3 linked regions of the Homo sapiens genome follow. The protein of the gene in region 2 binds, or shares a complex with, the protein of the main gene of each other region. Each region holds a gene or a part of one and is shown on either strand. Other genes may lie near its edges. The genes, in order: TFDP1, MYBL1 and RBL1.

Region 1 (3,821 bases), on a different chromosome or scaffold from region 2:
TTTCTGTATGGTTTTAACTGTTCCCGATATTAAAAGAGCGAAACGTACCACACCGCTGGGCTCCGCCACCCCAGCCTCTCGGCCCCGGCACACACTTACTGACTCGTTTGGTAAAAATTCTTTTATGCTGTACTTGGCATTTTCTGTATGGTTTTAACTGTTCCCGATATTAAAAGAGCGAAACGTACCACACCGCTGGGCTCCGCCACCCCAGCCTCTCGGCCCCCGGCACACACTTACTGACTCGTTTGGTAAGATGTGGTTGTCGGCAGCACTGAACTCCGCAACCAGCTCGTCTGCCACTTCGTTGTAGGAAGTGGTCCCTTTCCTCTGCACCTTCTCGCAGACCTTCATGGAGAAATGCCGTAGGCCCTTGCCATTCTTCTCTCCTTTCCTGTTGCGCTTCCTTCAAAATACAAAGGAAAAGAGAAGCGACTGTCAGCCCTCCTGAGGATCAGCCTGAATCGAGGAATGCTTTTACCTGAGAGCTCTAATGAGCTGCACAAAAAGGGGCCACGTCCCACGGGCGCAGCAGATCCAACACGTGAGCAGGCCAGGACCCCCTAGCCCCAGCCCCCAGGCCCAGTGGTCCTGCAGGTCAGAAAGCGAGTGTCTCCCCAGCAGGCTGCACCTCTAACCTTCCAAGCGTCAGGGAAAACGGGAGGCGTCCCCAGGACCCAAATCAGCATATGGGAGATGTGCCGGTACACCAAGCACCACTTTTCTTTTTGTTGTTGTTTTTTCTTTTTTGAGACGGAGTCTCGCTCTGTCGTGGGCTGGAGTGCGGTGGCGCCATCTCGGCTCACTGCAACCTCCACCTCCTGGGTTCAAGCGATTCTCCTGCCTCAGCCTCCCGAGTAGCTGGGATTACAGGCACGTGCCACCACATCTGGCTAATTTTTTTGTATTTTTAATAGAGACGGGGTTGCACCACGTTGGCCAGGATGGTCTCAATCTCTTGAACTCGTGATCTGCTGGCCTCGGCCTCTAGGATTACAGGCGTGAGCCCCAAGCACCACTTTTCTAAAGAGGGCAGCCAGAATCAGGAACTATGGGACGTTTCAGTGTAAATTTGGGAATTCTTAGGACTAATTTCAGCAGGCTGTAATTTCATACAGCTTGGGCTGTGACAGCCGCTTGACAACAGGTGCAAAGCACTAAGTGTGCTTCAGGTCGAGGGAAAGCCCAACTCTGTACACTCTGGTCAGTCCCCACATGGCGGGAAAGGCCACCTGAGGTTCCTAGCTGGTGAAGCTTTGGGCACCAACACAGGCAGGCTTTTGCAGCTTTGCGTGTGTGTGTTTTTAAGGAAAGACACAGCTCATCAGATCTTGCTTTAGTGGAAGGAGCAGCTCTGGCGGGACCACCCGCGGGGGCCGTAACCCCAGGGGCAGTAGAGGCTGAATTCAGGGGCAGTGGGTGAAATCCATCCCACATGCTCCCAGCACAGACGAGGGAAAGTCTCCGAGGTCCTGTGGCGAGTACGAGGCCAGCTTCTCCCCGTCTTGGCCAAGAGCTGCCAGCCCTTCAGAGAGCACCCACTACACCAGACACAAAGCGGGGTGGGCGGTGCCCAGCCCGACTTCTCCATGACCGAGGCAGTGCGCCTCGGCTGCACACCTGTGCAGGCCACGATGATGGGTGAGTGTGATTCGGAGGCTGGCGTCAACGCGCGTGGGAGCCCCATCGCACGACTGTGTGACACACGTGGCCCAGGAGAACGTGGAGGTGCGAACCGCAAGCAGTCCTACAACTCTAAGGGTCCAGAGGGAAGTGCTCACCCGGCAGACCAAGGTGAGGAGTCGGAAGGCTGGTTCTGAGAGGCAAAGTGAGTGCTGGGGGTGTGTGGGCTTCCTACCACCAGGGTGTTTGACGCTGCCGGTCTCTGAGGCGTACCAATTACCTACAGTCGAAAAAGACAATTCAGACAGTCAGTCCCCTCCCACACGGCGAGGGTGCCATGCCCACCATCTGTTCGCTATCCGCAGCCACTGCTGAATTTCCTTAACCACAGTGAGCAGCCATGACGGAGCAGGAAAAACGTCCAGCGGTGGACGCTTTTGTCACGGTGACGGCATCACCCCACCGGTTCTGAATGTGGCTCATCTTCCTCTTGTCAGTCACAGGCATCTTCTCCAATTAGACAAAAGCAACAAGAAACTTCGGACGACCCAAGCAAGCAAGAACAGGACAGGGCAGAGCGTGACCCCCAAACCGCACACAAGGCGCTAACGGTCAAGTTTAATGAAGGGGGCGGCACAGAATTCCACACAGGGCACTTGAGCACGCTTCCATTTTTCCCTTCACCCTTTTACTTCCTTTTAGTGATATGGATGAGGATGAAATTGTATCCTTCTGTGGTACTAAAAAGAGGCCTGAAACAAACCAAAAACAGCTCTCAAAAGACAAAAGCACAGGCAGGGTGACAGCAGCTGCTCCTCCAGCCCAGCAGGGTGACAGCCATCACCTGGTAACCCTGTGCCCTGGGGCCCTGTCTGGGGGAACCCCTGCACCCACAACGGCGTCAGGCAAGGAGGGAGGGCCACCAGCACTGGGGGCGGAAGGTAGGGGCTCCACACGCCCCTGGGGCTCACACACCTGGGCCCCTCTGGGGGGAACCACCAGAGGCAACGCCAGTGTGGACACTGACCCACCCGCCCCACCCCACAGCACACCTGAGGGTGTCAACAACTGTCTCTCCCTTCAGGGACATGCTGGCTGGTCTGACTCTTGACAAGGTCTTACCACTTTAGTTCCAACAATGAATGTTCGAGTGTGAATACCTGGACACCCTCATACAGGCAAATACAACTCTGACTTTTCAAAGATCTTGTGGCACGACTCTATCTAAACTGGAAACACTATTTCTCAGTAAATGTTAAATCATTCAATTCACCACAAATCAAAGTGCCTCAGCGATTATACTGCTTGTATGGACATGCAGTTTCCGTTAAAGGGATTGGAGCTGGACACCTGTATGCTGGCGGGGGGGCTTCATGTGGCCGATGCCCTGAGCTACTCTAAGCTGGGCCCCCCCAGCTCCCCTTCTTACGGGGATAAATGCATCACCTGCGGTGGCCCTGGGAGCAGCTGACGGGGACACTTTCCAATTATCCCTAGGCCAGATCACCTGTCAGCTCCGGAGAAGAAAAACATTTCAAGGACTGATCTTTTCATTGACACTCATCTCTCCGATGATCAGAGACTCATCAGAGTGCGGCCTTCTGTGGATCACCAGGCCATGAAATCAAACAAGTGAATTTTCTGCAAAATGAAGCCATACAAAAGATAAATCTCCTGGGCGTGGATAAATGTCCTGTGAAACTTGTTTTGTTCAATACGCGTGTGTGTGTGTGTGTGTGTGTGTGTGCTGCTGGGGCACTGGGCCACGTGGGAGATCCAAACAGCTGACAAAAGGACCCTGCCACTCAGGCTGCCTGAGAGCGCGCTGGCCCCGCACGGCTTCCTACGTTGAGTTCAGCAGATGCCATTCTCCGGGAGTTGATGTCAGACTGAGAACCCGCCAGCTCCACGCCAGGCAGTGCTGGCTGGCTCCGCGCATACCACACGCACAGGTACAGGGGGCTGGAGAATCCCACACACGATTCTAACCCACCTCATGGGTCCACTCCCTTCCCCAGGAATCCCAGGACCACGCAAGGCACTGGATCTTGGCCCCAAAACAGATGCCGTCACCGTGCCGCTGTCCTCCAGGCAGGAGCAAACCTACTCACAAAGAGTGGACTTACAACGAGGAACTGACTTACAACGAGGAACTTACAAGGAACATCCCGATAAACCCGCATGAGCTGAAAATACCC
Region 2 (3,600 bases):
TTAAATTTTTTTATATTTAAAAATTCAAAAAGCCTAAACCAGTACTTCGGCAATCATAATTACAAGAGCTTTAAATATCTATCTTTTCTGAAGATTGATGTTAATTGGGTCCTTGAAGTTCTAGAAGGGTGGTTCTTTCCTGGGTGATTTTGTCCCCCAAAAGATATTTGGCAATGTCTGGAGACATTTTTACTGTCATGACTGAGGGAAGTGGAGTGTTACTATCTCTACTGGGTAGAAGCCAGCGATGCTGCTAAACATCTCCCCATTACAAAGAATTATCTGGTCCAAGATGTCAATAGTGCAAAGGCTGAAAACAGTTTTAGAGGGGTCTGTGTACACATTTATTTCATCTCAAGAGTTTGTCCTATAACTTACTTCAAAACTAATAAGCTTACAGAGACTTAAGGATTTCTGCAGAAGCATCCTGCACACAGCAGATGCTTAACAGAAAACTAAGGAAAAAACAATTATGTATAGTTACTGCCAATTTTTAGCAGAACTCTGCAATGAATGACCCCCATTACTAAATTTCAACTTAGGAAATACATCTCTAGTTAAGATTTTGGGGCTGTGGATCTAGATAAATAAATATTTGGAAATCCTGCCAAACATCTTTTCAGGTTTATTTGATAATGCTGAAAATCGGAAGACATCCTATATTTTTGTTATCTAAGCAATTACTCCACATAATTTATGAGTAGCTGCTGTAATGGCATGTAAACGAAAATTAGATGCATAAATTCATCCTAGCACATTTTCCAGGCAAAGGTGGAAAAAAGTGCCTTACCTCTGTGGAACACTTAGGTACGGTCAGAGCCAAACACAGACACTCAAAATATTAAGTGAATCAAACACATTGTTTTATTTCAAGATCAAGCTACTAGTTGTTACTACTAGTTGTTACTATGTGACATGGTCCCAAGAGAGGATATTAAAATATACATATATACATAAAGCTGAGCATATGGGTATAGGAATTACAGAAAACATCAAAAAAGTCCTCTCAGCTATTCCCCAGAGGATTTTCCACAACGTTTCAAGATAGCCAAGTTGGCAGAGGGGTGGCCGCCCAGGTTCACCGCGGAGTTCCTATTTTGACTGTACCGTCATTCAGAAAAGAGTCGCCCGAACACCATTTTCAAGTCCTCCCGGCAGGACACAGTCAGTTTTCTCTGCGTAGCGGACTCCCTAAAAGCGCTCGACTTACCTGGCAAGAAACCTGCCTCGAAGAAGTGGCAGCATGAGGTCAGAAATCTGGACGCGCATTACGGGGAGAGTCACCGAGAAACCTGGGCATCTCTTACGTCCCGCGCCTCAAACACCCTGGTCCCCAACTCTCCACACGTCGCAGCTGCCCTCCGGTCATCGAGGCCAAGCGGCCGCGGGGACGCGGGAAGAAAAACCTCTGCCCTCGCCAGGGAGGGCCTTATGGCGGGAGGGGGCAGCGGGATAGGAAAGAGAATCTGAGCCGAGACGGCGCCGACAGGCCTGGGCGAAAGGGGTGCCACCCACCTGCGCGACCTCTTCGCCATCCTTCAAGTACCGCATAGGAGCAGGCTGGGCGGGGACGCGGGTCAGCCTCCTCCAGCCTCCGGCGAATGCTCCTTCTCCCCGATCCTCTAGCCGCTTCCCTCGCTCCCTCTGGAGGCGGCCGAGTGCGGAACGCACGTCCTCGACAGGGCAGGACGGAGGGACAGCGGGGGCGGACCGCGACCCGACCCCGACCCCGGCCCGCAGCGCCGCTCTTAGCCCCGGCCCGGCCCGGCCAGGGATACCCCCAACATGTCAGGAGGCGCGATCCCGCCCTCCGCCGGCTTCTCCCGCCGCTTGTCAGCCTCCCTGCCCTGGCCCCAGCCCGGCTCCGCCACAGGCGCCCGACCCCTGCCCTCTCCCCCGCAGCTAGCAGTTCTGCAGGGCTCGCAGTCTCCTGCAGGGTTTTGTCCGCACCGCCGAATCTCGCGCCCAGCCTCCCTCAAGAGCCGCCGTTTGAATCTGCGCACGCGGCCCTGAACCTCATTGGCTGTGGGGGCCGCACGCGAAGAAGCGAGGGCGGGGAGGGGAGAGCGCGCGCGGCTGAGGGCGGGGCTGGGGAGCTGGAAGCTGGGACTGGAACTCGCGGGAGTCGGGGAAGGAGCCGGGAGCCAGGGGGTGGGGCCGCGGGTGGGGCCGTAGGTGGCGCATGCGAGCCGAGCTGTCATAGGACCCGGAACGCGCCGAGAGGCGCACCGCGCGGGGCCTGCTGGGAGAGCGAGTTCCTGCGCTCGCCGAGGAGTGGGTCCGGAAGCGGCGCCGGAGCGGGTCCGGAAGCGGGCGGTGGAGAAGTCCAGTTGCCCCAAAATTCTTAGGGTGAGCGAACCGAGTTTCTGGCGGGGTGGGTGGTCCCGCGGCCCACCAAGGGAACGTCTCCGCAGCCTCGCCTCGGCGACAGCTCCTGGCTCCTTAGGTGTCTTCCGCCTCACTAGTTAGGATGCGCGGTCTTCAGACTTGAGACAAATCTAACCATAAATTTGCGCGGCCGTTATTTTTTAAGCAAAAATGTGAGCTATTTTTACCCAGACATCATAGTTACGAGAGTGACGAAGACTCTGGCAGGAAACCAAATATCACCTGTTTTCCTCAAAAAGCAGCAGAAGAGTGACAAGTGAAAAAAGTTCCTAGCGGGAGACGTGCTTGGAACCGGAGATAATCTGTGTCTACCGCTGGTCTTCAAGGTGCTTAATTTCGTGCCCGCTCTACAGGAAATAACGTGCGCGGCGGAGGAGCCCTGTCCTGGAGAATAACGCGTGAAGAAGACAGTGGACTGGGCATTTCGTCCAGATGAATGAGCATGGTAGTTAAGTGTAGAAGGTGACCTTCTTCCCTCTGGAGAGACCAGGGAGGGGGGAACCACCGGAGGAGTTTCTAGCGGTTGCAGCTACTTGAGGTTCCAGTCTAATAACTACGAACTGTTCATTTCAAGTAGCATTAAAGTAGATTTGCTACAGTAACAATTACACTTGGCTAAGGAAAATTTGCAAGGCAACATGGTCTATTGCATAGAGCACTGAGCCACATGTTAACACTGTAACAAACACTTGCTATTTTGAAATTTTACGCTTCATCTTTTGCAAATCAGATGCAGGTGCAGAGTGAATTAAGAGGAGCTGAATTAAGAGAGAAGCTTGCATGCACTGCTGTCAAAACCTAAACACACTGGCTTTTTTTTTTTTAACAGTTCCTTTTTTCAAGGTATAGATTCTGGGAAGGTAAGGGAAGATAAAACAGCTTTTCTTTTTCTCTCCTGTTTTTTTTTTTGTTGTTTTTTTTTTGAGACTAGGTCTCACTCTATTCCCCATGCTGGAGTGCAGTGGCACAATCATAGCTTACAGTAGCCTCGAACAGCGATCCTCTTGCCTCAGCCTCCAAAGTAGCTGGGACTACAGGCGCGCGCCACAACACCTGGCCAAGCGTTTCTTCCAGATCATTCCTTACTGGGTTGCTGGTTCAGTAAAAATAAAAAAATAAAAAATAATTTAGAAATGAGTTCCCAAATTTCATTATGTTCCCAATGTCATTTGGAATCACTGTTTCACTGTTTTCTTATTTACCCCTGGGTCG
Region 3 (3,821 bases), on a different chromosome or scaffold from region 2:
TGGCATGTGCCTGTAGCCCCAGGTACTTGGGAGGCTGAGGTGGGAGAATTGCTTGAGCCCAGGATGTCGAGACTGCAGTTAGCCTCAATCATGTACTCCAGCCCGGGTGACAAAGCAAGACACTGTCTTACATGAACAAAGAACAAACACCATCCCTCAAGCCTAAATTTAATTAAAAAAAAAAAGTCCTCACTATGAAATCACTTTCGTTCCCAGGATCACCAGGGGAATACAGGTTATTAATTAGTGGTCATCACATAGAGTTTACTGCTATGGAGGGAGCGAGAGCACCTATCTACTTCCTTTATTCTCTATATTACCTAGACAATATTTTGCATAAAATTTACAAAGTTAATGTTAGTTAACAGATTGACAGGTTATAAAATTAGTTTGAGATCACCTGAGATCGGGAGTTCAAGACACAGCCTGAGCAACATGAAGAAACCCCGTCTCTACTACAAATACAAAATTAGGAGCTCTCCCTCTCCCTCTCCCCACGGTCTCCCTCTCCCTCTCTTTCCACGGTCTCCCTCTCATGCTGAGCCGAAGCTGGACTGTACTGCTGCCATCTCGGCTCACTGCAACCTCCCTGCCTGATTCTCCTGACTCAGCCTGCCGAGTGCCTGCGATTGCAGGCTCGGGCCGCCACGCCTGACTGGTTTTGGTGGAGACGGGGTTTCGCTGTGTTGGCCAGGCCGGTCTCCAGCCCCTAACCGCAAGTGATCCGCCAGCCTCGGCCTCCCGAGGTGCCGGGATTGCAGACGGAGTCTGGTTCACTCAGTGCTCAATGGTGCCCAGGCTGGAGTGCAGTGGCGTGATCTCGGCTCGCTACAACCTCCACCTCCCAGCCGCCTGCCTTGGCCTCCCAAAGTGCCAAGATTGCAGCCTCTGCCCAGCTGCCACCCCGTCTGGGAAGTGAGGAGCGTCTCTGCCTGGCCGCCCATCGTCTGGGATGTGAGGAGCCCCTCTGCCTGGCTGCCCAGTCTGGAAAGTGAGGAGCGTCTCCGCCCGGCCGCCATCCCACCTAGGAAGTGAGGAGCACCTCTTCCTCGCCGCCATCCCATCTAGGAAGTGAGGAGCGTCTCTGCCCAGCCGCCCATCGTCTGAGATGTGGGGAGCGCCTCTGCCCCGCCACCCCGTCTGGGATGTGAGGAGCACCTCTGCCCGGCTGCGACCCCGTCTGGGAGGTGAGGAGCATCTCTGCCCGGCCGCCCCGTCTGAGAAGTGAGGAGACCCTCTGCCCGGCAACCGCCCCGTCTGAGAAGTGAGGAGCCCCTCCGCCCGGCAGCCGCCCCGTCTGAGAAGTGAGGAGCCTCTCCGCCCGACAGCCACCCAGTCTGGGAAGTGAGGAGCGTCTCCGCCTGGCAGCCACCCAGTCCGGGAGGGAGGTGGGGGGGGTCAGCCCCCCGCCAGGCCAGCACCCCCATCCGGGAGGGAGGTGGGGGGGTCAGCCCCCTGCCAGGCCAGCCGCCCTGTCCGGGAGGGAGGTGGGGGGGTCAGCCCCCCGCCCGGCCAGCCGCCCCGTCCAGGAGGTGAGGGGCGCCTCTGCCCAGCTGCCCCTACTGGGAAGTGAGGAGCCCCTCTGCCCGGCCACCACCCCGTCTGGGAGGTGTGCCCAACAGCTCATTGAGAACGGGCCAGGATGACAATGGCGGCTTTGTGGAATAGAAGGGCGGGAAAGGTGGGGAAAAGATTGAGAAATCGAATGGTTGCCGTGTCTGTGTAGAAAGAAGTAGACATGGGAGACTTTTCATTTTGTTCTGTACTAAGAAAACTTCTTCTGCCGTGGGATCCTGTTGATCTGTGACCTTACCCCCAACCCTGTGCTCTCTGAAACAAGTGCTGTGTCCACTCAGGGTTAAATGGATTAAGGGCGGTGCAAGATGTGCTTTGTTAAACAGATGCTTGAAGGCAGCATGCTCCTTAAGAGTCATCACCACTCCCTAATCGCAAGTTCCCAGGGACACAAACACCGCGGAAGGCCGCAGGGTCCTCTGCCTAGGAAAACCAGAGACCTTTGTTCACTTGTTTATCTGCTGACCTTCCCTCCACTATTGTCCTATGACCCTGCCAAATCCCCCTCTGTGAGAAACACCCGAGAATTATCAATAAAAAATAAATAAATTTAAAAAAAAAAACATAAAATAAAATAAAATTAGTTTGAGGGAAAACAGAAGTCTCCCAAATGGAAAGACAATTCCATTTTCCAAATGGGAATTTGATTACAAAGCACCAGATTGTTACAGGTTAGGAGTAAAATTCAAGAGTTTGAGTTCCAATGTGTGGTTCCACAACCAAAAGTAAAGAAGGTAGCACATACTCAGAAAAAAACTTAATAGTTCTGGTGCCCAGGTTGGAGTGCAGTGGCACCACCTTGGTTTACTGCAACTTCCACCTCCTGTGTTCAAGCAAGCCACCGTGCCCAGGCCAATTCTGGGTACATTTTTTTATGTCCCTATGTTAACGTGGTCTTAGATAGAAAACTTGTCATGTCAAAGCTCACTTAATTAAAGGTCTAGCAATATATACAGAATAATACTTGTAATTTTTTTTTTTTGAGATGGAGTCTCAGTCTGTCACCCAGGCTGGAGTGCAGTGGCATGATCTTGGCTCACTGCAACCTCTGCATCCCAGCTTCAAGCAATTTTCCTGCCTCTACCTCCTGACAGCTGGGACTACAGGTGCACACCACCATGCCTAGCTAATTTTTGTATTTTTAGTAGAGACAAGGTTTCACCATGTTTGCCAGGATGGTCTTGAACTCCTGACCTCAGATGATCCACCTGCCTCGGCCTCCCAAAGTGCTGGGATTACAGGCATGAACCACTGCACTCGGCCCTATGTTCTGATTATTTCATGTAGATTGGAAAGGCTTACTTGAGTCCATTTCGCCTGGCCAATACTTATAATTTCTTTTTAAGGTGACAGAAGACATTAATAGCAAATCATCCAAAGCTATTTAATGTGGTTTGGATGTTTTGTCCCCTCCAAATCTCATGTTGCAATGTAATTTCCTTGGCTGGGCATGGTAGCTCATGCCTGTAATCCCAACACTTTGGGAGGGTGAGGCTGGAGGATCACCTGAGCCCACCAGTTTGAGACCAGCTTGGGCAACACAGTGAGATCTCGTCTCTACAAAAAATTTAAAAGTTAGCAAAGCATGGTGGTGTGTGACTGTGGGCCCAGCTACTCAGGAAGCTGAGGCAGGAGGATCACTTGAGCCTGAGGGGTTGAAGCTGCAGTGAGTCATGAACATGCTACTGCCTGGGCAAGAGAGTGAAAGCCCGTCTCAAAAAAATAAAAAAGAAACGTGACCTCCAATGTTGGAGGTGGGCCTAGTGGGAGGTGTTTGGGTCATGGGAGCAGATCCCTCATGAATGGCTTGGTGCTCTCCTCATGGTAGTGAGTTTAGTTGTCACTCACCTGAGATCTGGCTGTTTAAAAGTGTGGCACTTCCCACCCTCAATTGCTCCTGCTCTCATCATGTGATGTGCCTCCTCCCCCTTCACCTACCGTGACTGTAAACTTCCTGAGGCCCTCACCAGGAGCAGATGCCAGCCCCATGCTTCCTATACGGCCTGCAGAACCCTGGGCCAAATAAATCTCTTTTTTTAAATAAGTCACCCAACCTCAGGTATTCCTTCATAGCAACGTAAAACGTCCTAATACAGCATTCAAACTCTGGACATGCTGATATAATCTGAGACTCTTAAGGACCTCATTAAAAGATTCTTACCAACAGCAGCAAAAAATTTGTCAGATTACTAAATATTTTTTGGCTTACAAAAAATTATGCTCCCTTACAGAGGACTTTAAAAATT

What was found.
Region 1: MYBL1 (region 2) and TFDP1 share a complex: the UniProt entries of both Homo sapiens proteins name them as parts of the DREAM complex.
Region 3: MYBL1 (region 2) and RBL1 share a complex: the UniProt entries of both Homo sapiens proteins name them as parts of the DREAM complex.

Annotation. Positions count from the first base shown.
Region 1 is NC_000013.11:113,629,705-113,633,525, reverse strand, and holds part of TFDP1 (transcription factor Dp-1), read right to left. Parts: exon of another isoform or gene 2,224-3,821; intron 1,904-2,223; coding exon 1,782-1,903; intron 407-1,781; coding exon 241-406; intron 1-240. UniProt on the Homo sapiens protein: Can stimulate E2F-dependent transcription.
Region 2 is NC_000008.11:66,611,304-66,614,903, forward strand, and holds the start of MYBL1 (myb-related protein A), read right to left. Parts: upstream 1,916-3,600; 5' UTR 1,536-1,915; coding exon 1,516-1,535; intron 1,491-1,515; exon of another isoform or gene 1,270-1,490; coding exon of another isoform or gene 1,211-1,269; intron 1-1,210. UniProt on the Homo sapiens protein: Transcription factor that specifically recognizes the sequence 5'-YAAC[GT]G-3'.
Region 3 is NC_000020.11:37,068,357-37,072,177, forward strand, and holds part of RBL1 (retinoblastoma-like protein 1), read right to left. Parts: intron 1-3,821. UniProt on the Homo sapiens protein: Key regulator of entry into cell division. Directly involved in heterochromatin formation by maintaining overall chromatin structure and, in particular, that of constitutive heterochromatin by stabilizing histone methylation.